3 separate regions of the Homo sapiens genome follow, and regions 2 and 3 are each linked to region 1. The links come from fine-mapping of genetic effects on gene expression. A gene starts in region 1. Each other region holds a variant in brackets. All regions are shown on one strand. Distances are between the middles of the regions. Region 1 holds the start of SNAPIN (SNAP associated protein). Region 2 overlaps NPR1 (natriuretic peptide receptor 1). Region 3 holds the start of SPRR5 (small proline rich protein 5).

Evidence for each region. PIP is the estimated chance that this variant, and not a neighbour inherited with it, causes the effect.
Region 2: its variant is fine-mapped to the expression of SNAPIN in lung (TOPMed, PIP above 0.99).
Region 3: its variant is fine-mapped to the expression of SNAPIN in fibroblasts (GENCORD, PIP 0.95).

The regions. Positions count from the first base shown.
Region 1 is chr1:153,654,994-153,663,169 of GRCh38, forward strand. SNAPIN (SNAP associated protein) reads left to right here and starts at 3,710. Exons shown (of 4, transcript NM_012437.6): 1 at 3,710-3,893; 2 at 4,145-4,191; 3 at 4,455-4,573; 4 at 6,207-6,859. The coding sequence starts at 3,751. The coding sequence ends at 6,308. It overlaps ILF2 (interleukin enhancer binding factor 2), which reads right to left. Exons shown (of 14, transcript NM_004515.4): 12 at 8,026-8,140; 13 at 7,712-7,802; 14 at 6,795-7,563. The coding sequence ends at 7,403. RefSeq lists an enhancer at 3,476-3,555.
Region 2 is chr1:153,680,093-153,688,268 of GRCh38, forward strand. It overlaps NPR1 (natriuretic peptide receptor 1), which reads left to right. Exons shown (of 22, transcript NM_000906.4): 2 at 409-608; 3 at 1,088-1,201; 4 at 1,612-1,747; 5 at 2,406-2,497; 6 at 3,284-3,419; 7 at 3,648-3,732; 8 at 4,872-4,992; 9 at 5,714-5,788; 10 at 6,031-6,108; 11 at 6,554-6,658; 12 at 6,924-6,995; 13 at 7,108-7,264; 14 at 7,542-7,697; 15 at 7,961-8,129. Among named protein-coding and RNA genes, the nearest start is that of NPR1, 5.5 kb to the left of the region's middle. RefSeq lists enhancers at 4,413-4,914, 4,915-5,414, 6,818-8,017, 7,516-8,176. The variant T/C (reference allele first, on the strand shown) is at 3,500.
Region 3 is chr1:152,940,656-152,948,831 of GRCh38, forward strand. It overlaps SPRR5 (small proline rich protein 5), which reads left to right and starts at 6,551. Exons shown (of 2, transcript NM_001395435.1): 1 at 6,551-6,593; 2 at 7,882-8,176. The coding sequence starts at 7,900. The region is part of intron 1 of LINC01527 (long intergenic non-protein coding RNA 1527); the gene reads right to left. The variant CGTGT/C (reference allele first, on the strand shown) is at 3,989.

The sequences.
Region 1 (8,176 bases):
TGGCAGGCACCTGTAAGCCCAGCTACTCAGGAGGCTGAGGCAGGAGAATTGCTTGAACTCGGGAGGCAGAGGTTGCAGTGAGCCGAGATCGCGCGACTGCACTCCAGCCTGGGAAACAAGAGTGAAACTCCATCTAAAAAAAAAAAAAAAAGAGCCAGGCATGGGGGCGGGCGCATGTAATCCCAACTACTCGGGAAGTTGAGGCTGGAGAATTGCTTGAACCCGGAGGTGGAGGTTGCAGTGAGCTGAGATCATACCCCTGCACTTCAGCCCAGGCAACAAAGCAAGACTCTATCTCAAAAAAAAAAAAAAAAAAAAACTGTTGTTTATCTGAAATTCAAATTTACCTGGTGTCCCAAGTGTTTTGTTTATTCTGTTTGCTAAATCCGGCAATAGGGAGTATTTAATCTAAAGAATTGAAGAGGCACCTGAAAGGACAGTGGCCTAACACACAAGGGCTTCTTGTGCAAACAGTGGGCCATCAACCTCCAAGGCCCTCTCCCAGCCCAGGTCAACACCTGTTCTCTCTTTGCAGTACAAGCCTCAGAGATTTCAACACTTTTCCATTCCTCTTCAACACTGTCACTACTTTCTCCCCTGGGCTTCCTTTTCCCAAGGCCTGACTGTGAAGCAGGTTGCAGTTGCCTTGCCACTTACTCCCAAAATAAGCTCCTAGCCTCTCGCAAGAGCTTTACCTCTAATCACCAGAGAGGAAGATACAGGGATACAAACGTAATCAACGACAAAAAGTGTATAAGGTGGTTTTTGGTGTGTGTGTGTGTGAGACAGAGTCTTGCTCTTTCACCCAGGCTGGAGTGCAGTGGCATGATCACAGCTCACTGCAACCTCTACCTCCCAGGCTCAAGTGATCCTCCCACCTCAGCCTCTCGAGTAGCAGGAACTACAGGTGTGTGCCACCATGCCCAGTTATTTTTTTTATTAATTTTTTTGTAGAGATGGGAGTCTCCCTATGTTGCACAGGCCGGTCTTGAACTCCTGGCTTCAAGCAATCCTCCCGCCTCAGCCTCCCAAAGTGGTGGGATTACAGGCATGAGCCACCCCACCCAGTGTAAGTGTATAAGGTTTTAAAAGTTATCACAGTTGGGGCTGGGCTTGGTGGCTCACGCCTGTAATCCCAGCACTTTGGGAGGCCGAGGTGGGAGGACTGCTTGATGCAGGAGTTCAAGACCAGCCTGGGCAACATAGGGAGGCCTCGTCTCTACAAAAAATAATAATAAAAAAAAAGTTATCACAGTTGGGGTCTTAGGTTTAGAGCTGCTGACCACCAAATCTCACAGTGATTCAAATGCCTTATCTTCCTTTATTACTGAAGATGAAGCTCAAAGCTGAACGTTCTGGTGCCCATTTATCACTATGGATGCCTTTGCCTGTCCTCCAGGAGCATTTCTGCTCATACATCCTTCCCCATGGCCTAGGGAATTGGGAGCCACGGGAACACATTAGAGCCTAGGAGACAGATGTAAATTATCTGGAAAGCCATGAAAAACCAAACCGAACTAAACTAAGGAAGGAATCATTGTCTTCATAATTCTCAGGGAAAAAGAAAACCATGGAAGGGTGTCTTGAGGCCAGGAGTTCGAGAACAGCCTGGGCAACATAGGGAGACCCTGCCTGTACCAAAAAAATTTAAAAAATTAGCCAGGCATGGGGGCAGGTGACTGTAGTCCCAGTTACTTAGGAGGCTGAGGCAGGAGGATGGCTCGAGCCCAGAAGTTTGAGGTTACAGTGAGCTATGATAACATCACTGCACTCCAGCCTCAGCAACAGAGTGAGACCTTGTCTCTAAAAATGAAAGGAAAAATAAGTGAACTAAGGAAACTTTAAAATTTATTTTTATGGCCGGGCGCGGTGGCTCATGCCTGTAATCCTAGCACTTTGGAAGGCCGAGGCGGGTGGATCACGAGGTCAGGAGATCGAGACCATCCCGGCTAACGTGGTGAAACCCCATCTCTACTAAAAATACAAAAAATTAGCCGGGCGTGGTGGTGGGCGCCTGTAGTCCCAGCTACTCGGGAGGCTGAAGCAGGAGAATGGCATGAACCCGGGAGGCGGAGCTTGCAGTGAGCGAGATTGCACCACTGCACTCCAGCCTGGGTGACAGAGCAAGACTCGGTCTCAAAAAAAAATTTTTTTTAATTTTTATTTTTTGAGACAGGGTCTCACCCTGTCACCCAGGCTGAAGTGCATGCAGTGCCACGATCTTGGCTCACTGTAGCCTCAACTTCCTAGGCTCAAGGTCCTCCTACTTCAGCCTCCCAAGTAGCGGGGACCACAGCTGTGAGCCACCATGCCTGGCTAATTTTTTTTTTTTTTTTTTTTTTTGAGATGGAGTCTCGCTCTGTCGCCCAGGCTGGAGTGCAGTGGCGCGATCAGGGCTCACTGCAAGCTCTGCCTCCCGGGTTCACGCCATTCTCCTGCCTCAGCCTCCCGAGTAGCTGGGACTACAGGAGTCCGCCACTGCGCCCGGCTAATTGTTTGTATTTTTAGTAGAGATGGGGTTTCACCGTGGTCTCGATGTCCTGACCTCGTGATCCACCCGCCTCGGCCTCCCAAAGTGCTGGGATTACAGGCGTGAGCCACTGCGCCTGGCCGCCTGGCTAATTTTTTATTTCCTGTAGAGACAGAGTCTCACTAGGTTTGTTGCCCAGACTGATCTCGAACTCCTGGGCTCAGGTGATCCTCCCGCCTCAGCCTCCCAAAGTGCTGGGATTACAGGAGTGAGCCACCATGCCCTGCCTGCATGTTTATATTATTCAGCCTTAAAAAGGAATGAAATTCGGATACATGCAGTTTTTTACATATTTAATGCCATTAAAAATATACTCTTTAGAAATAGACCAGGCGTGGTGGCTCACGTCTGTAATCCCAGCACTTTAGGAGGCTGAGTTGGGAGGATCACCTGAGCCCAGGAGTTCGAGACCAGTCTGGGCAACAAACATAGTGAGACCTCTTCTCTACAGAAAATGAAAAATTAGTCAGGCATGGTGGCTAACACCTGTGGTCCCTGCTACTTGGGAGACTGAAGCAGGAGGACCTCTTGACCCCAGGAGGTGAAGGCTACAGTGAGCCAAGACGGTGGCACTGCACTCCAGCCTAGGCGACAGAGAGAGACCTTGTCTTAAAAACAACCAACCACAATAAACTCTTTAGAAATAGAAAACGATACTATGAATATAATGTGGCTTTCTCATAAAGTGTTTTTGTTTTTGGTTTGTTTTTGTTTGGTTTGGGTTGCTTTTTTTTTTTTTTTTTTTTTTTTTGAGGCGGAGTCTCTCTGTTGCCCAGACTGGAGTGCAGTGGCGCGATCTCGGCTCACTGCAATCTCCGCCTCCCGGGTTCAAGCGGTTCTCCTGCCTCAGTCTCCCAAGTAGCTGGGTGCCCGCCACCATGCCCGGCTATCTCATAAAGTTAACATGGGAAGGCTATGGACAACTGCAGGTATTCGCGTTTATTTTCACCTTTAAAGAAAACGAAAAGTATCCACTCCAAAAACTGGTTCCTTTCTACAACCTGAACTTTGGAGATTTTCAAGACCAGCCACAAGGCCTCTACTCCTACGGCCTGGCCCTCCTCCCCGCCCGGTTCGCGCTAGACTCCATTTCCCAGAAACCCCGGTGTCTTGGTGGAGACAGCATTTCCCGGGCGCCCCCTCACGGGGCGGGGCAGTGCGGCGCGGCTCCGGTTCCCGGCGGCCCTCGCGGCAGGTTTCGGGCTTCAGGACAATTCGTGATGGCGGGGGCTGGTTCCGCCGCTGTATCGGGGGCAGGGACCCCGGTGGCGGGGCCCACAGGCCGCGACCTTTTCGCCGAAGGGCTGCTGGAGTTCCTGCGACCCGCTGTGCAGCAGCTCGACTCTCACGTACACGCCGTCAGGTGCCCGGGAGGGAAGTTGGGGGCGGGGCCTGTCTCTCTGGCTTTGTAGGGGCGGGGCCAAGAAAGTGTTCTGGCTGGGAGTGGGCATAAATTTAGGAAACTGATTCGAGGCGGGGAGGACAGGCGGGAAGGCCGCAGGTGGAGGGTTCAGCGGAGGCCGGCTTCTCTCAGTACTTGGTAAATACGTAGGGGAGTTCGTTTCCTGAGCTCCGGTAACTGCCTGACCTTGTAGGCCTTGTACCTCTTTGCAGAGAGAGCCAGGTAGAGCTCCGGGAACAAATTGACAACCTAGCCACAGGTGAGTGAGCATCCCTGTGTACCCGGAATTCTTCAGCCCACTTTCAGGACCTTAGGTTTTTGCCAACCCCTGGGCTGAGTTTCTGTCACTTGCTTCCAGGGCATCAGGGCTGCCAAAGGACTCCTCCTTTCAGGGATGTCTTAAATCTCTAATGGCTGTGGCCCGTTTGGGTGCAAGTGTTTTCCATCCCATTACCAGCCTGCTTTCCCTCAGAACAAGAGATAAGCCGTTAGATCTTAGCTGCACCTTACTTCCATCCCCAGAACTGTGCCGCATAAATGAGGATCAGAAGGTGGCCCTGGATCTTGACCCCTATGTTAAGAAGCTACTTAATGCCCGGCGACGCGTTGTCTTGGTTAACAACATTCTACAGAATGCTCAGGTAAAAGAATATCTTACCAACAGTGATTCTTTGCCCTTTTTTGTAAGTCCTCAACACAGTGAAAGCCACTGTAATTTTAAAATTCTTTGGGGAAAGGGAAATTCACTTCTCCCAGTACTTGAAAAATACCTAGGAAAATTCGTCTCATTCTCACTATTCAGTTGCTGCCATTTACATTCTTGTGTGTGTGTGTGTGACAGTCTCCCTCTGTCACCCAGGCTGGAGTGCGGTGGCTCAATCTCAGCTCGCTGCAACCTCCGCCCCCTGGGCTCAAGCAATTCTGCCTCCGCCTCCCGAGTAACTAGGACTACAAGCGTGCACAACGCCCAGCTAATTTTTGTATTTTTTTGTAGAAGTAGGGTTTCTCCATGTTGCCCAGGCTGGTCTGGAACTCCTGGGCTCAAGTGAGCTTCCCACCTTGGCCACCCGAAGTGCTGAGACTACAGGAGTGAACCACCACACCTGGCTATTTATTTTTATGATACAAGGTCTATCACCCAGGATGGAGTGCAGTGGCATGATAAAGGCTCACTGCAGCCTCTACCTCCCAGGCTCAAGCGATCCATCCACCTCAGCCTCCCAAGTAGCTGGGACTACAGGCATGCACCACCATGTCCAGCTAATTTTTGTATTTTTTCTAGAGACAGGGTTTCACCATGTTACCCAGGCTGGTCCCAAACTCCTGCATGCGAGTGATCCACCTGCCTGGGCCTCCCAAAACGCTGGGATTACAGGCGTGAGCCACTGCACCCGGCCTGCCTGGCCTTTTTTTTTTTTTTTTTAAATAAAAAGACAGGATCGGCTGGGCGCGGTGGCTCTTGCCTGTAATCCCAGCAGTTTGGGAGGCCGAGGTGGACAGGTCACCTGAGGTTGGGAGTTGGAGACCAGCCTGACCAACATAGAGAAACCCCGTCTCTACTAAAAATACAAAATTAGCTGGGCGTGGTAGCGCATGCCTGTAATCCCAGCTACTTGGGAGGCTGAGACAGAAGAATCACTTGAGCCCGGGGGACGGAGGTTGCGGTGAGCTGAGATCGCACCATTGCACTTCAGCCTGGGCAACAAGAGCGAAACTCCGTCTCGGGAAAAAAAAAAAAAAAAAAAAAAGACAGGCTATCACTATGGTGCCCAGGCTGTTCTCAAACTGGGCTCAAGTGATCTTCCTGCCACTTCCTCCTAAATGGTGCTGGGATAGGCATGAGCACCATGCCTGGCCTACATTTTTTTTTTTTTTTGAGATGGAGTTCTCCCTCTGTCACCCAGGCTAGAGTGCAGTGGCACGATCTCATTTCATTGCAACCTCCACCTCCCGGTTTCAAGCGATTCTCCTGCCTCAGATTACAAGCACCCGCCACCATGCCCAGCTAATTTTTTTGTATTTTTTAGTAGAGACGGGTTTTACCATGTTGGTCAGGCTGGTCTTGAACTCCTGACCTCAGGTAATCCACCCGCCTCAGCCTCCCAAAGTGCTGGGATTACAAGTGTGAGCCACCATGCCCGGCCTACATTCTTATATATACTTTTGAAGACTGACTTTGAGGTAGATCACGCCCGGTATTTTTCAGCACCTAGTTCACTTACACTCTCAAGCCTTTCACAGTGGTTAAGATTCCAAACCTTCCTTGTCTTGTAGGAACGACTGAGACGGCTAAACCACAGTGTTGCCAAGGAAACAGCCCGCAGGAGAGCAATGCTGGATTCGGGAATTTACCCCCCTGGCTCCCCAGGCAAATAACAGATGAGCCTATGGACTCAGTAGCACAAGTACTGTTCCCCAGCTGCCTTGTTTCAACAGACATGCAAAGATCCTAGGAGACAGTCCCCATAGACCTTCAGACATTAAAAAGGGAGCCGTACAGTTTGTTTGAAGCACTTCGTCTTACCCATTTATGTAGGGGCCCCAGGAAACCTACACACAGCCAGAATGAGGTTCCCAAAGGACTTACATTAATTATGGCTCTTGCTTCCTTTCACAAATGAGCTGAGGCCTCTACTTTTTTTTTTAAGCTGCATACGTGAGGCTTACCTTCTTCAGGACTAGTTAACCAGAGGGGCTTCCTTTGTATGTTACATGCCTGGTTACATGGGCCTGGACAGCATGTCCTCTACCTGTGACTTCTCATTTTCCTGTTTACACTGGGGATTTGGAGGGGGCAGGCAAAGTCAAAGTGAATGACCTCTGTCCACCCACTTTTTTATTGCACTGGCTTGAATACAGTAGCAGTGTTGATAGAATCATTTTATTCAATAAATACTTAAAATGATATTCTAGTTTACTCTGGTATATGGAAAGGTTCCAGGAGTTTGTCCTTTAATTCAAAGACAGCTTCAAATTGTGATCTGAGTATTTATAATTAAATGACTCAATTATCATTTTCAACAAAAGAGTACACAAAGCCAAAAGCAAAAAAGGTTGCCACATGCAAAAAAACAAACAAACAAAAAACACCAACCAGAAAGACCAAGAGCCCTACTAGGAAGTACTTTAATAGTTTTTCTTAGAAAAAAAAATTTCCAGACACTTAACATTTCACAACATTTCAACAGCAAAGTATTAGTTGAGAGAGGGGTTTTCAGGAGTTGGAGATTATAGAATATTAGGAAGAAATGTTGGTATCCTCCATTATAGATGGATGGCATAGGTCACAAATGGGAGACTGGCAGCTAAGCCAATATCAAAACCCAGTGGAATGACACTTCTATGGAGTTTACTTTTCTTCCTGCTATCTTCCCTATCCCACGGAAATGTCTGTCACCATGTAAAGCCCAGTAGCAGGCAGCTTAGGCTCCAGTCTTCCCCCTTGGGTAGGAAAAGGAGTGAAGGGAATGTCACTCCTGAGTTTCCATGCTTTCTTCTTCCTCTCCTTGAGGTGGTTCTTCTGTATTCTCCTCTTCTTCCTCTCCTTCCTTCTTCTCTGGTGGCTTCTCATAAGCCTTTTCTGAAGGTGTTACTATCACTCCATCCCAGGTAGATATTTCAGAAGCAAGATCTAGGAAAGAGAAAAAGGTGATTTAGACGAGTAGCCCAGCATAAAAGTCATTACTTACACTGTGGAAATATTAAAGACATTTAAGTAGTGTACAGCTTCTCTGTACCAGATTACAATACAAAACCCCTGACCCACAGTGGTCACTCACAGCTGGCATCACCCTCCTGGCCAAGGATCTTCCTAAAGCCACCATGTGAGAGGATTCGGACGAGAGTCTGAGCTGTATAGCAGACCATGTCCTGAAGGAAAGCAAAGTGAGAGTAAGCAAGGAAAATCAAAGGACCTTATTTGAGTAATACCCTTCTGAAAACAGAGATTAAGACAGCTTTTTAAATCTCAGGACCAAAGTCTTTCAGAATCCCCAAATTCCTGACCCGTAAAGACCATATTCCGCTTTGCCTGCTGAGCAGCAGTATTCAAAAGAGTGGGGCAAAACAACTCAGTTCATATCTGTCCCAATACCTGCTGTTCTAGGGTCATGACTGTGTGTACTCTAAAGTTGCCACTCTCACAGGGGTCAGTGATACCCACTGAACCTGGCAGGAACAGTCCTGCAGCCAGAATCTGCAAGCAGCGCCTAGAACACAGGGAGGTATGAGGTATTAAAGGAATG
Region 2 (8,176 bases), 25 kb after region 1:
CCTTTTTCCCTCCCACATTTTCTCTCTTCCCTATAGCCTTCTCCCTTCTTTCATCCTCTCCTCTCATTGCGCCTCATCCCCTCTCTTCTCCCCCTCCCTCTCCCTCCTCTCTCCCTCCTGGCCCCATCCTTCTCCACCTTCAGCTCCACTATCCCCCTCTCCCTACCCGTTCCTTCCTCCCTTCCGCCTCCCCCTTCCTCCTCCCGCCCACCGCCCCGCACCCGCCCGTTCCACCCTTCGACTTTCTCCTGCTGTGGCCTAGGCTGAGCCGGGAGTTACCACTTAACTCTCACTGGGTCTCTCCTGCACCCTATCTCTAAACTTCCTCCCTTGGGTGCCCCAGCTTTCCTACTCCTGTCTCTCCCGCAGTACCTAGGCTTCTCTCTCTGACTCTCCGTCTTTCTCCAGTTATCTACATCTGCAGCTCCCCTGATGCCTTCAGAACCCTCATGCTCCTGGCCCTGGAAGCTGGCTTGTGTGGGGAGGACTACGTTTTCTTCCACCTGGATATCTTTGGGCAAAGCCTGCAAGGTGGACAGGGCCCTGCTCCCCGCAGGCCCTGGGAGAGAGGGGATGGGCAGGATGTCAGTGCCCGCCAGGCCTTTCAGGTGAGTACCTAGGTTTGAAGCCCAGGCTGTCTCAGCTTGTGGCACATCATTTCTGGGCACTGTGTCCCTCAGCGTCTGAAAGAATTCCAGAAAAGAGGTTTTTGTCTGTTTGTTTCTTTATGCACTCCTGGTAACTCACAGAACAGAAAAGAGGTTGGTGATGCTCACTGGGAATTAGGCAATGAAGGGCAGGGGACTGCCCAGGGGCGCTTCGCCACCAGCAGGCTAAAAAGATAAGAAAATGGGCTTGAGGCGGGAGGAGGATAAAGTCCCACAGCCTGGACAGGACTTGGAGAAGGCATCCCATTGGATCCCCTGCTTTGGAATGGGCATCACTTCATGCAGGGCATAGGGTCCAGTTTGACCTTGAGCTAAGCAGAGACGCAGCTCTGGGAGGTGGGCTCCCAACTGTTGGGGCCCCACAGTACTAGGGAATAGTCAGCTCCCAACTCTCTGCTCTCCACTGACCCCTTTCTCAGGCTGCCAAAATCATTACATATAAAGACCCAGATAATCCCGAGTACTTGGAATTCCTGAAGCAGTTAAAACACCTGGCCTATGAGCAGTTCAACTTCACCATGGAGGATGGCCTGGTAAGAAGGGGTCCCGGGACCCTCCAGCGTGGACCTCCAGCCCCCACTCCATGACCCTCTGCCAGCCTCCATCCTTCCCTATTCCCAGTTCTCCCCTTCCTTCCCTCCCTTCCCATTGTTCCATGTTTCTCGTGATGATGGAGGAGGACACTGGCAAGTTCAGCCTCTGAAACTCAGGTCATCATCAGTAATATGGAGACGATACATCCTGCCCTGTCTACCTAGTAGGATTCAGGAAGTGATGCTAATCCAAAGGCATCGTTTAAATAGTAAAATCTCCCTGTGATATAGGGGTGTTATTTTCTCCCATCCTCTTCCAAAATCCCAGTGCCTCTTGTTCCCTTCCCCACAGCTCCCACCTCCATGCCCTTCATATGCCCACCCCAGCCGACCTCTGTTTGCCCCTACAGGTGAACACCATCCCAGCATCCTTCCACGACGGGCTCCTGCTCTATATCCAGGCAGTGACGGAGACTCTGGCACATGGGGGAACTGTTACTGATGGGGAGAACATCACTCAGCGGATGTGGAACCGAAGCTTTCAAGGTCAGGGCCTGGAGGTGGCTGGAATGGGCTGCCTTGGGGGATGAATCCCAGGTGCCCAGTGTCAAGCCATGAGAAGCCTATTGTCCTGCAGCAGTTACCTATGCACACCAGCCTTTTCCTCCACAGCTTTTTTCAGGCCCATCCCTCAGAAGTCCTACAAAGTGTCCAATCTCAATCATCCCTGCTGGGCACTGAGTTCTTTTACCTTTCTTTTTCTTTTTTCTTTTTTTTTTGAGATGGAGTCTCGCTCTGTCCCCAAGACTGGAGTGTGGTGGTGCAATCTCGGCTCACTTCAACCTCCGCCTCCCAGGTTCAAGCAATTCTCCTGCCTCAGCCTCCTGAGTAGCTGGGATTACAGGTGCCCTCCACCAACACTTGGCTAATTTTTTGTATTTTTTTTAGTAGAGACAGGGTTTCACCACGTTGGTCAGGCTGGTCTTGAACTCCTGACGTCAGGTGATCTGCCCGCCTCAGCCTCCCAAAGTGCTGGGATTACAAGCATGAGCCACAGTGCCCGGCCGTTTTACCATTTACTATCATTCTGTATACATGTATGTTTGGAAGGCAAGGCAAAAAAGATTAGAGGATGAAGAGATGAAGTGGGGCACCCCTGAACTTCTATTCTCTCAAACATAGTCATCTTCCCCCATGTCCTCAGGTGTGACAGGATACCTGAAAATTGATAGCAGTGGCGATCGGGAAACAGACTTCTCCCTCTGGGATATGGATCCCGAGAATGGTGCCTTCAGGGTAAGTTTGTGCACCCAGAAGACAGTGCCAATTCCAAATGACATCTCACCCTCCTACTTCCCCCCCACAGCCCTGCCAGGGCACCTGTTTATCCTGTAGCCATTCCACCATGCCTGGACACTTACAAGAGCCCTGGATAAAACAGACCCAGCTCCAGTCTGGGGAAGCCACCAGAATGATAGGGACTCACAGGCATCACACTTGGGGAGCCCCATGCCTGAGGAGGGAGCACAAGCCTGCCCTCGGGGAGCTCCGAAGGGAGGCAGGCAGGACCGCCTCCCAGCAGAGACAGGGCTGTGAAAGATGCACATTACACAGCTCTGCAAGCGAGCAGGGACAGGAAGGCGCTGAGGCCAATGGCCACAAGGGACAGGTCATCCAGAGAAGGCCTCCTGGAAGACGGGCACATGGACTGGGCCTGCGAATGTAGGCTAAGGTGAACATTACCTTCTCCTGTTTTCTACCAAGAAAATAAGTAGAGAAAAATCAATGCTTGGTTGGTACTTCAACCAAGATTATAAACTCCCTGAGTGTAGAGATCGGGTTCTAAATGGAGTTTTCTTTATAAACCCCTTGATAGTTTTCAGGTGTTTCCACTTGAGTACTATGTGTGTGGTATGAGGTCCTGTGTCCAGTTGCAGTGGGGACTTGGTAAGCAGGTGACAACCCAGATATATATGTAGGCTCTAGAAGCAGAGCTGGGGTAGGTGGGAGGTGAGACTGCTGCACTCACAGCATGCCTTCCCCGCAGGCCCTGGCCTAGCCACCACTCCTGCTCTCCCTTAGGTTGTACTGAACTACAATGGGACTTCCCAAGAGCTGGTGGCTGTGTCGGGGCGCAAACTGAACTGGCCCCTGGGGTACCCTCCTCCTGACATCCCCAAATGTGGCTTTGACAACGAAGACCCAGCATGCAACCAAGGTGACTGCCCCTTGCCTTCCAGGCCTCCATCCCAGAGATGCTGCATCCTTCCCCTAAGCACAGTCGAGTAGGTGCTCCTG[T/C]CCCATGCTGAGGGCTTTCTGGAGAATGACTCCTGCCTTTTTCTTCCCTTCATCCATCATCCCAGTTCACTGATGGACTATTAGAAAGTTCTTCCTCCTGCTGTCTAACCCAAATCTCTCTTGCTGCAATATGGACTCTCTCCTGCAGATCACCTTTCCACCCTGGAGGTGCTGGCTTTGGTGGGCAGCCTCTCCTTGCTCGGCATTCTGATTGTCTCCTTCTTCATATACAGGTGAGCTGTGATGTGGGGGGTTGAGTGAGGCTGGGGGACCCGGAGAACCAATAGCAGAGGAGGCGGTGGGGACCCAGAGGGAAGAGGGCAGGGGTGAAGGGGCACCAGGGGAAAACCAAGGGAGATGAGGAAGAAAGGAGGCTTAAAAGCCAGAGGAGAAAGAAAGAGAAGGGAATGGCAGGGCGAGGGGAGGAGACAAGGATAGGAATGGCCAAGGAGAGTCAGAAAGATCCAAGAAGCAGAGAAGTTGATGGGTGACATCATAGGGGCGTGGACTGGTTTTCCTTGCTACTCTTGCAGGCCAGATAGGAAGCAACTTTCTGAACCTTTGCAATCATGCCCATGTTAGCTGAGGAGGGTGAGCCCTGGTGTGTGCCAGGTGCCCAACCTAGAATGGAGAAGGGAGCTGAATGAGCCTTGTTCCTGCCGTCCAGTGGAGGCTAAAATGAAGTACAGGAGGAGTTAATGATATACAAAAGCAAGGAGGGAGGGGAGAAAAATCACTGCTGGTTGAGCATATAATGTGTGCCAGGCACTTCCACGTACACTATTTCTTTCTTTCTTTTTTTTTTTTTTTTTTTTTTTTGAGACGGAGTCTCGCTCTGTTGCCAGACTGGAGTGCAGTGGCATGATCTAGGCTCACTGCAACCTCCGCCTCCCAGTTTCAAGCAATTCTCCTGCCTCAGCCTCCCATGTAGCTGGGACTACAGGCACATGCCACCACGCTCAGCTAATTTTTGTATTTTTAGTAGAGACAGGGTTTCACCATGTTGGCCAGGATGGTCTCGATCTCTTGACCTCATGATCCACCCACCTTGGCCTCCCAAAGTGCTGGGATTACAGGCATGAGCCACTGTGCCTGGCCTCATGTTCACTATTTCTTTTCATTCTTATAATAGTTAAGAATGAAATAGATATTGCGGCCTCATTCCCAAGTAAGGACATTGAGGTGATTCCCCCAAGGTCCCCAGTAAGGCAGAATTTCCCCCAGCCATCCTGATTCTCAGTCCAGAGGATAGAATTCCCCCTCCATCTCTGAGTGCATGGTGTGGTCCCACGGCTCTGAGGAGGGGCTGCTGAGCACCCTGCCCTGGGTCAGCGGCTCAGCCACAGGCTCAGATGCAGCCTTCGTATCCCAGGAAGATGCAGCTGGAGAAGGAACTGGCCTCGGAGCTGTGGCGGGTGCGCTGGGAGGACGTTGAGCCCAGTAGCCTTGAGAGGCACCTGCGGAGTGCAGGCAGCCGGCTGACCCTGAGCGGGGTAAGAACGCTGGTGTTTGTGTTGGGGGGCAATAAAGGAGAGGTGGGTACAAGGGGCAGTGCCTGAGGGATAGGTAAGGGAGCAGGATTCTAGTCCCAGCTCTGCTTTCACTTGCTGTGTGACCTTGAGCGACTCATAGTCCCTCTCCGAGACTGTCTCAGATGATGATTACAGCAGCAGAGCCTCCCTCACAGGGCTCTTTTAAAGGTCAGAGGAGATAGTACCTGTGAAAACACTTTAAAAAAAAAAAAAGTAAATGAGGAGGAAATTTTATGATGTGGAACATAAAGCAGGGTGGGCCAGGCACAGTGGCTCACATCTGCAATCCCAGCACTTTGGGAGACCGAGGCAGGAGGATTGCTTGTGCCTGGGAGTTCAAGACCAGCCTGGGCAACAGAGCAAGACATCGTCTCTACAAAGAATACAAAGATTAGCAGGGCATGGTGGCGCATACCTGTAGTCCCAGCTACTCTGGAGGCTGAGGTGAAAGGATCATCTGAGCCCAGGAGTCTGAGGCGGCAGTGACCTAGGATAGCACCACTGCACTCCAGCCTGGATGACACAATGATACTACATCTCAAAAAAAAACCCAACAACAAAAAGGAAGGGTGACACAAAGATAAGGCAGGATAAGGCAGGGAAATAAAGACCAGAGCACAAGCAATCAGGATGCAGACTGGGCCCACCGGCTGACCATTCCTCCTGCTCTCCCTCCTTTCAGAGAGGCTCCAATTACGGCTCCCTGCTAACCACAGAGGGCCAGTTCCAAGTCTTTGCCAAGACAGCATATTATAAGGTGGGCCTGGGGAAAGATCACTGGGCCTTGGGACTGGGGCAGGAGTGTACTCTGATGGAGGACTGGTGGGGGGTTCTGAGGGAAGGAGTAAGCTGGTGGGGAGCAGCAGATGGGGGCCCTGGGGGTGGGCTATTGGGAACAAGTGAGGGTCCTGAGGGCAGGGATGGGCTGTCGGGAGCAGCTGGAATTCCCAGGACATGGGACCATGCTCTTCACAGTGACAGTCTCCATTCCATGCCCAGGGCAACCTCGTGGCTGTGAAACGTGTGAACCGTAAACGCATTGAGCTGACACGAAAAGTCCTGTTTGAACTGAAGCATGTAATGTGGGGAGTGAGGCAGTGGCATGGAGAAGGGGCCCTCGGGGACGCAAGGGAGACTGGCCAACAGAACTAGTTATGGAGGGACCTCAGGGTACCCCAAGAAAGGGGCAGGGACTGGAGCCCTGGGATGGACCTTCATCTTGTGGGTGGGAGTGGGGGTATCCTAAGCTAGGAGAAGAGACCACTGGAGATAACCTGGAGGAATCTTGAGGGGCCATATGTGATGTCCCTGGGGGAGAGAGGGCTTAGGATGCAGAGGGAGTAGGAGCAGATTCTGGGGAGGGTGGGCTAAAGGACATGGGTGGGAATCACCAGGGAAGATCTTAGTGATGGTTGCAGAAAGTGAATAAGGAGTTAAGAAGAGTGAGGGTCCCTGAAGCTAGTGAGCAGCTTGGTGAGGAGCGAGGTCTCTGTCAAGCTCCTGATGCTGGTCCCACTTGCAGATGCGGGATGTGCAGAATGAACACCTGACCAGGTTTGTGGGAGCCTGCACCGACCCCCCCAATATCTGCATCCTCACAGAGTACTGTCCCCGTGGGAGCCTGCAGGTGAGGGGGACAAGGGGTGTCAAGAAACCTGGGTTCTAGCCCTGGCTCTGCCCCTGACTGGCCATAAGACCCCAGGCATGCCTCGCCCTCTTTCTGACCTTTCTGGCCCCATCTGTAAAAATGGGAGTTGGGGAAGGGCAGTGGCACTAGAGTCAATCCAAAGTTTTGTCCTGTTCTACCAGTTCACATCAGTAGGACCCTGCACCCTCCTCCAACTCCCAGGGGGATCTGCAGGGGATTGGTCTGACTCTTATTGCCCCAGCAGGACATTCTGGAGAATGAGAGCATCACCCTGGACTGGATGTTCCGGTACTCACTCACCAATGACATCGTCAAGGTATGCCCCTAAGCACCTATTGGATGTGTAGAGCAGGGGCCAGGCATGCTTCTCCTGGCCACGGGTGTAGGTCCCACTCCTGGCCAATACCTCTGCCCACTCACATTTCCAGGGCATGCTGTTTCTACACAATGGGGCTATCTGTTCCCATGGGAACCTCAAGTCATCCAACTGCGTGGTAGATGGGCGCTTTGTGCTCAAGATCACCGACTATGGGCTGGAGAGCTTCAGGGACCTGGACCCAGAGCAAGGACACACCGTTTATGCCAGTGAGCCTTGACTCTTGAACCTAACACCTGCCCCCAGCACCACCCAGTAGGGAGACTGATGCAAGGCCTCTGATGGGCTTGGGCATGCTTGTCCTGACTCCAGCCTCAATTCATTCACCCATGAAAAAGGGAAGGCCAGACGAAGTGGTTTCTAAGGCCTCCTCTAGCTCTAACACTCTGTGATGCATCCAGATCAGTTTCGGCCACACCCTTGTTTCCCCCTCACCCCTTAGCTTTGGGCTCCCTCACTCGGTGACTACCGACCTCTGACCCACAGAAAAGCTGTGGACGGCCCCTGAGCTCCTGCGAATGGCTTCACCCCCTGTGCGGGGCTCCCAGGCTGGTGACGTATACAGCTTTGGGATCATCCTTCAGGAGATTGCCCTGAGGAGTGGGGTCTTCCACGTGGAAGGTTTGGACCTGAGCCCCAAAGGTGAGAGGAGCACACCTTCCTTAAACCCAGCCACAGTCTCAACGAACCCCAGCCCCAGGGAGAGGGTCCCCTGGCAGCACCACCACACCTTCCTTCTGTAATGGGGTTCAGTCACCACCCTTTGACCCATTGCTGCCAGTGACCAGTCCCCCGCCCCCATGCCTTGGTCTTGGACTTCCCCTGCCATCTCAGCTGGTTGCCCCAGTCTCTCACTAGGCCCTTGGCCAGCCCCACCCCTCAGCTCCTCTACCCCCCCAATACAGAGATCATCGAGCGGGTGACTCGGGGTGAGCAGCCCCCCTTCCGGCCCTCCCTGGCCCTGCAGAGTCACCTGGAGGAGTTGGGGCTGCTCATGCAGCGGTGCTGGGCTGAGGACCCACAGGAGAGGCCACCATTCCAGCAGATCCGCCTGACGTTGCGCAAATTTAACAGGTCCCTGGTGTTTGTCATGGATCCCCCAGGCCCTTCCTCCACAGCCA
Region 3 (8,176 bases), 710 kb before region 1:
ATGTAGAAGAGAGTTTGCAGAGAGAGAGACTGTAGACAAGGGGATGGGCAAGGGACCTCTTCAGCAGTGAAGGCAAGAGCTGGTAAAGCCAGGACAGCCTAGGGCAGTGACCTAGAGATGGGTCAATGGGACTTGGCAAGTGGATGTAGTTAGAGGTAGTTCCCAGCTGCTGCCAGGGCTGCCAGGAGGATGGTAGGTGTGGCGAGAGCAGGGGGAAGGGATGAGAAGTTCAGTCCTGGACATGCTGAAATCAATGAGCCTTTGAAACACTAGATAAAGGTTTTTAAAATAAATGTATTTATTTTTAAATTGACAAATAATTACATACACATATTTATTAATTTATGGGGTGTAATATATGTTTGCATAGATCAAAACATCATTGTGCCCTAAACGGAGATATTGAGGCAGCAACTGGATATATGGTGGATCTGAAGGACAAGGTAGAGGCCCAGCCTGGGGATCTAGGGATAAAAAGTTGCTGGTCCTTCGAGGAAAGGTGGCATTTCACACCATGGGCATGAAAGAGATCACCACAGAAAGCAGGAGCCTCCTGGAGGCAGAACTGCAGAATTTCAGTCCTTCAGGGACTTCATTCCATAGCATGAGGCCATACAGGATGAGGGTATGTCTTGGTCTGCTGGGGCATCAAAGTACCCCGGTACTCCTCTCTCACGATGGTCAAGTCACTGGGTCTGGGCATGGTAAAGCCAGGTGGCTGTGGGGGCCATGGAGATGAACTGCTCCTGACCCACGACTAAAGGCTCCCTAGGAGTCGGTAAGAGAGTGGGTGATATGAAAGAGTTAATCCTCCAGGATCTGAGAGACTGGGCAAAGGCAGAGGAGGCATGAGCCGGACTGGGTTCTGTCTCAGTGAAGTCACCATGCAGGCCACAGCATGTCTCCCAGGCTGAGAGGGATGGACCAGAGCTTCACACTGTGTCCTGGAGAGTCTGGGAGGAGTCGGGAGGGATGGGGTGTGGCTGCTATGATAAGCCTGGTCCTGCCACCTCTGCAAAGGCCTGGCTTTTAGGAACAGGGATGCCAGGAGGGGAGAATTTCCAGCTGAGATTCTGACATCACCCAAAGTCCTCATTTGTTTGGTTGGTTGGTTGGCTTTGGGTTTCGGTCAAGCCCTCTCTATGGCATCTTATAAAATGTGACCTCAAGTAAGTCATTTCTCTTTTTTCATTCACCTATTCCATATTTGTTAGTGATTAGGCTTGAGAGACCACATTAGTGGTTCTTAGGTGTTTGGGTTTCACTAAACCTAAATTTTAAAAAAAATAGTCAATAAGGAACAACTCTTTATTTTGCCAAGTAAGGGCAAAGGCCCTTTGTAACAACCATCACTTTACAAAATAAAGATAATTTTAGTACTAGTAACTGTGAAAAGAATATAGCATCAAAAAATAAACAAAAGACCTTCCAAAGAAATAAAAGCCACTAATCTTATACCAACTGCTATAAAATAACCTTATACCAACTGCTCAGAGGAGAAGTCAGCCTCTGAGATGGGGCTGGTGTTGGCAGCAAGGCACTGGGGAAGACAGGAAAGGCCCCCAGACTGTGGACCCCTGTGGGCAGAAACATTTCTCATTTCTCTGTGGCTTGTTGAGAATGTCATCCGGTGTTGGCACAGTGCTTGGGTTGAGAGTTGGGAATGTTTTTTTCCTGATTACTGGGCTCCTTCCAGCTCTGGCACCTGTTAGTCCAGGGCACTCTGTGGTCCTTGACCGACAGACCAGTCCTCTGCCTCTGCTACCAGGGCAGAGGACTGGACCTTCTGGGGCCTAAAGCTTCTTTGCTTATGCTTCTGTCATTTATTTTCTAGTGCTTGGCACAAATCTGGTGCCCAGCAGGTGACATCCCTGACATCACTCCCTCCTCTCCAGCTGCCCTGCTGCTTCTCCTGGGTATTCTGCTCTGTCAGACACAATGTGTGTAAGCAAATGTCTTTTTTTTCCCTCCTCTCAGGCCTAATATCTGTATGCCCCATTTTTGTCACTTAGAATCATGAGGTCCCCTTGCCTCCTCCTTCCCTTTCCTTCCTTCCTCTCAGTCCTCCAGTCCTGGGTTTTCTCATTTCAAGTCATTCTTAAGCCTGTCTTCCCTCCCCACTTCTATTGCTGCCATCCTAGGTGAGGGCCCTATCATTTCTTCCCTCCCAACTGGTCTCCCTGCCTCCATCTCGTGCATCCTCACTCCTACCCCACCTCACCCTGAGTTCCACTGTCAAATCCATCCCCAGAATACTTTCAGTCTTGTCCCTCCTTTGGGAAAATTATACTGTGCTCAAACCTGGCACAGACCTTGGGGATGATTCTCTTTACAGAATAGAAAACCTGAGCCCCGGAGAGTGGAAACCAACCATCCAAAAGCACACAATTACCGGCCAAGCTAGAAGCTAGAACACCCAGGCCTTCTAAATATACACTAGTGCCTGTCCACCTCCTTATTATAATCAATAGAATTTTGAAAACTATACATTATACTATACATTATAACATTGGTAGAAGATTCCACCCTAAAGGTAACCTCTGCACTGTTTAGAAACAGGACCCAGCCTCCCACCCTGCAATTTCAGCTCTCCTGGCTAGTCTAGAGTGCAAGGCCTTCGCTGGGGTCTGGTCTCATGTCCACTGCCCAGTGCTCATCACCACTGCTCAGCCACTACACTCATGTTGACTTCTTCTTTTTCCAGACACACAAAGCATCTTTCTACCCTCAAACAGTTTCTCAGACCATTCTTTCATTAATTTCACAGAAAACAATTTAGCTTCAATTCTGAACCATAGTTTTGCTAGGTGCTAGGATACAAAGATGAAGTCAGTGTTTCTTCCCACAAAGGGCCCACAGTTAAGGGTCATTTTCTGTCTTCCCCAGTGCCTTTCTGCCAACATCAGGCCCATCTCAGAGGCTGACCTCTCCTCTGAGCTCCTTCACCACCCTTGTTCCATATCACCCCTCAGGTCCTGGCTCACAATGCTGGCTGCCAGCACCAGCTCCTCTGTCATAGCTGGTCTGGCCTTATTTCCCCAAGAAGATCATGAGCTCTGAGAGGGTTGGCTCTATGTGTCACACAGCTCCCCATCCCCCACAGGACTTGGCGTGGGGTTTGCCTCCTGCACATGTGCTGAGTGACTGGAACACTGCTAAGCTCTTGCCCTTACCCTCTGCCCAGATAGGTCCTGGTCTTTCTCAGGTTGGATGTTCTGCAAGTGCCCAGAACTAGAAGCCAAGCGAGTGGGTGTCTATTCACAAGTCAGAGGCATCCTGGGGGGCAGGGCCACCCACCCCTGCCCCTAGTATACACCTCCATCCCTGCCACCTCACCATCAAGTTCATGTTTATGAAAGTGAAATAAGGAGGAGATGAACTCCTAAGAAAATCTGAAGAGGAAAATGATGTCCTCAAGAGCCATGTTGTGCCTTAGCCATATGGGAGCAACGCAGATGTGGGAAGTCATTTCCCGGCAGATAGGAACCTATGGTAGGTGGTATGTTCACATGTTTTGAGAATTGACAGAAGAGGCCGGGCATGGTGGCTTATGCCTATAATCTCAGCACTTTGTGAGGCCGAGGCAGGCATATCATTGGAGGTCAGGAGTTTGAGACCAACCTGGCCAACTTGGCGAATCCTCATCTCTACTGAAAATGCAAAAATTAGCCGGGTGTGCCAGGCATGATGGCACATGCCTGTAATCCCAGCTACTTGGGAGGCTGAGGCAGGAGAATTGCTTGAACCCGGGAGGCAGAGGTTGCAATGAGCCGAGATCGTGCCACTGCACTCCAGCCTGGGCAACGGAGTGAGACTCTGTCAAAAAAAAAAAAAATTGGCAGAAGATACCACCTTCCATCTCATCAACTTTACTGCATGCTGGCCTTATGCCCCCATAAATACTTGGGGCCAGAGTATAGGAAAGACCCCTGTGTTTATGTGTAAATGTGCATGCATGTGTGTGTGTGTGTGTGTGTGTGTGTGTGTG[CGTGT/C]GTGTGTGTGTGTGTGTGTGTGTGTGTGTGTGTGAGTCAGGATTGAAGAAAGAGAAAGACAGAGAGCAATGCTAATGAAGGTCAGTGGTTAATACCATTCCAAAACCTGGGATAAGTAATTGGGTTTCTTAGTGGCTTCTAGATTACCCATTCATTTTCTGTCCTCTGGTGTCAGAAGCAGTTCTGTGTTATACATTCTTGAGGTAGCTGACTCCACCACACTCACACACAAACACAAAAAAACCTGTCCTAGGTGGTTGGGGCACATACAAAAAATAATTAACAGGATTTAACACCCCAAGCCCCACAAATTAGCTGATGTTCACACTTTCTTCAGCCATGTAGGCATCATTCCAGTGACATGTGGGTTTGATTTCTTTGGTTAATACAAACCTAACAATTGAAAAGTATCTGTAAGAGTTGGAAGTAAGAAGGTAAGAGGACGTGACACAGTTTTAGTGCCCCTTCCCATCTACAAAGGCCTGATTCACAAGGACAGACTTGCCAAGCCAGGCTTCCCTCTGTCCTGTTGCCTTGGAAACAGCAAGGGCCTGGCCATCCTTGCTTCCCCCTGCATCCCCAGCATGGACATAGTGCCTGGCACATGGAACAATTGCATCTTAATGAATAAATGGTTAGCCCAGGATAACAACTCCACATAGTCTTTCTTCTCTGCTATTAGGGACCTGAGCTGAAATCCCTCTCTCAGGCTTTCTGGGGCTGCTTCTGTCTGAGTGATACCAGCTTGAAGGGATTCTCCTCCTGGGAAGGGCTGGACTCCTCTGGCCCTCCTTAGTTACTAGCCCGTGCACATCTTGTGATCCCAGAGAGTCAGGACCATGGTTTAAGAGAGAGAACATCGGTTTCCACACCTGTGTCTTCTAGTGATGCAGCATGACTCCCCAAGGTCTTGGGATGTTCTAAGGCTTTTATTAAATAGTGGAACCATGGCTAAATTTCATGGCTGAGATTTAAAATGTGCCATCTTCAGGACTAGCTTGCCTATTTCCATTTCTCTCACTCAAAAGTCTTTTTTAATGTATTTTTAGGGGAAAAGTAAAAATTATATATATGTACAGTGTACAATGTGATGTTTTGATATATGAATATATTGTGGGATGACTAAATCAAGCTATTTAATACATGTATTACCTCACATATGTATCATTTTTGTGTGGCGAAAACACTTAAAATCTACTCATTTAGCAATTTTCATGTCACATATTGTTATTAACTATAGTCAACATGACTTCCAGTGGATTCCTTGAACTTATTCCTCCTGTCTCTTTCAACCAAGAGCTTATGACACTGGGTGGCAAGTGCCACTACTTGCCTCCAACTTTTTTCAACTTCCTATTCCATATTTCTAAGAGTGTGTCTTGCCCTAGTATTCAAAGCCCATCTCCATGGAGCACCCAACGACTGTTGACCATGCATTTTGTGCCAAACACTTGCACATACTTTAAATAAGTTGTCCATTTTAATCCTTACAACTGACATGCAGAATGGTGCTGTTACCCTCTTTAGCAGGTGAGAAAATTGAAGTGCAAAAACATCTGGTTCCTAAGGTCACCCAACTGGTAAAAGGCAGAGCCTCAGTCTGAGCACCACTTGGGAATTTTTTAAAGATGAGCTCCATCCTTTGCCAGGTATGGGAAGCATCCAAGTCTGTATCCCGTGCCACCCTTCTTTGTCCTGGAACTTCTAACAGAAGTTAGGAGGAAGAGCCAGGACTGGGGCCCCAGGAGCTCAGAACCCAGAATCCAGTCACTGTGACTCCTCCATGAGCTCACTCTAATGCAATGCTTCTTAGCTTCCCCCACCCCCTCCACCTTATGATAATCATTTCCCTGGGAACCCTGGAGTCATATGGATATGTGATATATGTAGGGAGATTTAGAGATAAGCACTATCTACTGTAACCAACCAGTTTCCCCGAATGGGGCCTAACGATTTTCCCAATAGCAGAACAGACAGAGAGTGGCAGCTGCCATTTCTTGTATAAATAACAATAGGTAAAAAATGAAAGCCTCTTGTCTTGTCTTCCCACCAGTTCAAGCTGAATGTGACTCTGAGCCTAGGTCAAGTCAAAGTCACAACTTTGCTGAGGGTGGTGGGTTTCCAAGAGAGCCATCTGCCCCCTCAGCTGTTTTCTTATGTTACCTGCATAAGCTGCCTGTCCCATCCCCTCCTCTCTGCCAACCAGAACATCCCAGAACACTGCCCTCACACCCCCACACCCAGCATGGTCGGAATGCTTGCTTGGGACCATCCTAGATGCCAGGGATCTAAGTCAAAAGTCATGAGTGGGTTTGGAAATCCAAGGAAGCCAGTCCTCGTAAAATGATGGGGAGATGAGGCAAGGGGAGGGTGAAGGCACTGTCATCTCCAAATCCCGCCATACCAGCCCTGGGGGTGAGTAAAACTTAAAATTTGAGGAAGGACAGGTGGATCCTATTGTGACTAGGGACTAATTAGGACACCCCAATCCTGGGCCACCTCATGGCCTCAGGCAGGGATGAGAGGTATATAAAAGGTAGATAGGCTCAGAGCATCCCAAACCCCTCCACACCTATCTGCTCCAGTCGCTGGTGAACCTTGGTAAGTCTGGAAAGGTAGTACCTCTTATAGCAGCCTTGCCTTGCCTGCATCCCTAACCAACTATGGACTGGGCTGATTCTCTGGGTGGTGGTCAGAAAGGATGGGTCTTTTGGGGTACCTCTTTTTTCCATATCATTTGTGACAAACCTATCTTGGGTCCAGCAAGTTATCCAGCAGAGTAGTGTGGGAGGCTGGGCTGAGCAGGGAGAAGGAGGGGGGTATCTACAAGAGGGTCAGTATCTCAGCGATGCTGCTGGCATGGTGTGGGTGTTGCATCTTGTCAGGTGCTAAGAGGGAATTAGTAGGAGAGGAGAGACCAGTTCTGGGCAGAGCAACTGGAAGGACTGTCCTTTCAAAGAAAAGAGAAGGCAGGAAGGAAAGAGAACAGACTCCCTTGGGACAGCAGAGTTGTGGATGTCCATGGAGCAAAGGGCTGCAGGGACAAGACGATGTGGCACCATGGAAGGCTCTGCTCTGGGAATCAGGAGACCTCTTTTCCCACCATCTATGCCGAGTGGCTTTGAAGCCATTCCTTCCCTCTGAGGTTTGCTTTCCTCAACTGTAATTGAGAGAGGCAAGCTAGATAGTCCATTTCATCTATCTCTAGAGTTTTCTCTTTATAAACTCCTTTAGAGAGTGGTTAAGATGCGCCTTTTAAATTGTTTATGAATTTACTTAACAAATTACAACTCTTATATAGTGTTCATTTTGTGCTACTACTCTGCATGTGTGTGTCGGTACATACATACCTACGTATGCATGCATATTTTAAGTATGTATTTTATATACTCATTTAATTTTTGCACCAACTCTAAGAGAGGTAAGTATGGAAAACCTTAGTTGCTCAAAATCATATAGTTAATAAATGATTTAGCCAGAACTCAGATCCCAGGCAATTTATTCCAGATGCCACAGGTTTTGCTATAATAGGATACAACAGTCTGCTCTTTCATTCTTCCTCTTTTTTTTCCTCTCTCTCCCTTTTCTTTTTTTATGTTTTTCTTTCTTTTCAACCCCTCCTAACATTTCTGTTTTCCCTCCCTTCCTCCTTTCCTATCTTTCCTTCCTTCCATGTTTCTTTGTCTTGAAAAGAGTTGAAATAACTTGTAAACACTTAAAGTTTACACATGCGCGCGCGCACACACACACACACACTCCTCTTAAATCTGTGAAGGGATCAGGGCAAGGTAAAAGCAGAGCAGGACAGGAATGTGGCAGGGGGTTCACCTGGGCTTAGGGTCTCTCTATGGCTCAAGTGTTCCTCATTTCTGTGTCTTTCTGTTTCCAGTTGCAAGTCCAGCCCAGAATGTCTCAGCAGAAGCAGAAGCAGTGTGCTCCCCCGCAGCAGTGCTGCCCCCCACCCCAGCAGCGCTGCCCCCCACCCCAGCAGTGCTGCCCCCCGCCTCAACAGTGCTGCCCCCCACCCCAGCAGTGCTGCCCGCCGCCTCAACAATGCTGCCCCCCTCCCCAGCAGTGCTGTCCCCCACCCCAGCAGTGCTGCCCTCCACCTCAGCAGTACTGCCCCCCACCCCAACAGACCAAGCAGCCTTGCCAGCCCCCACCCAAGTGCCAGGAGCCCTGTG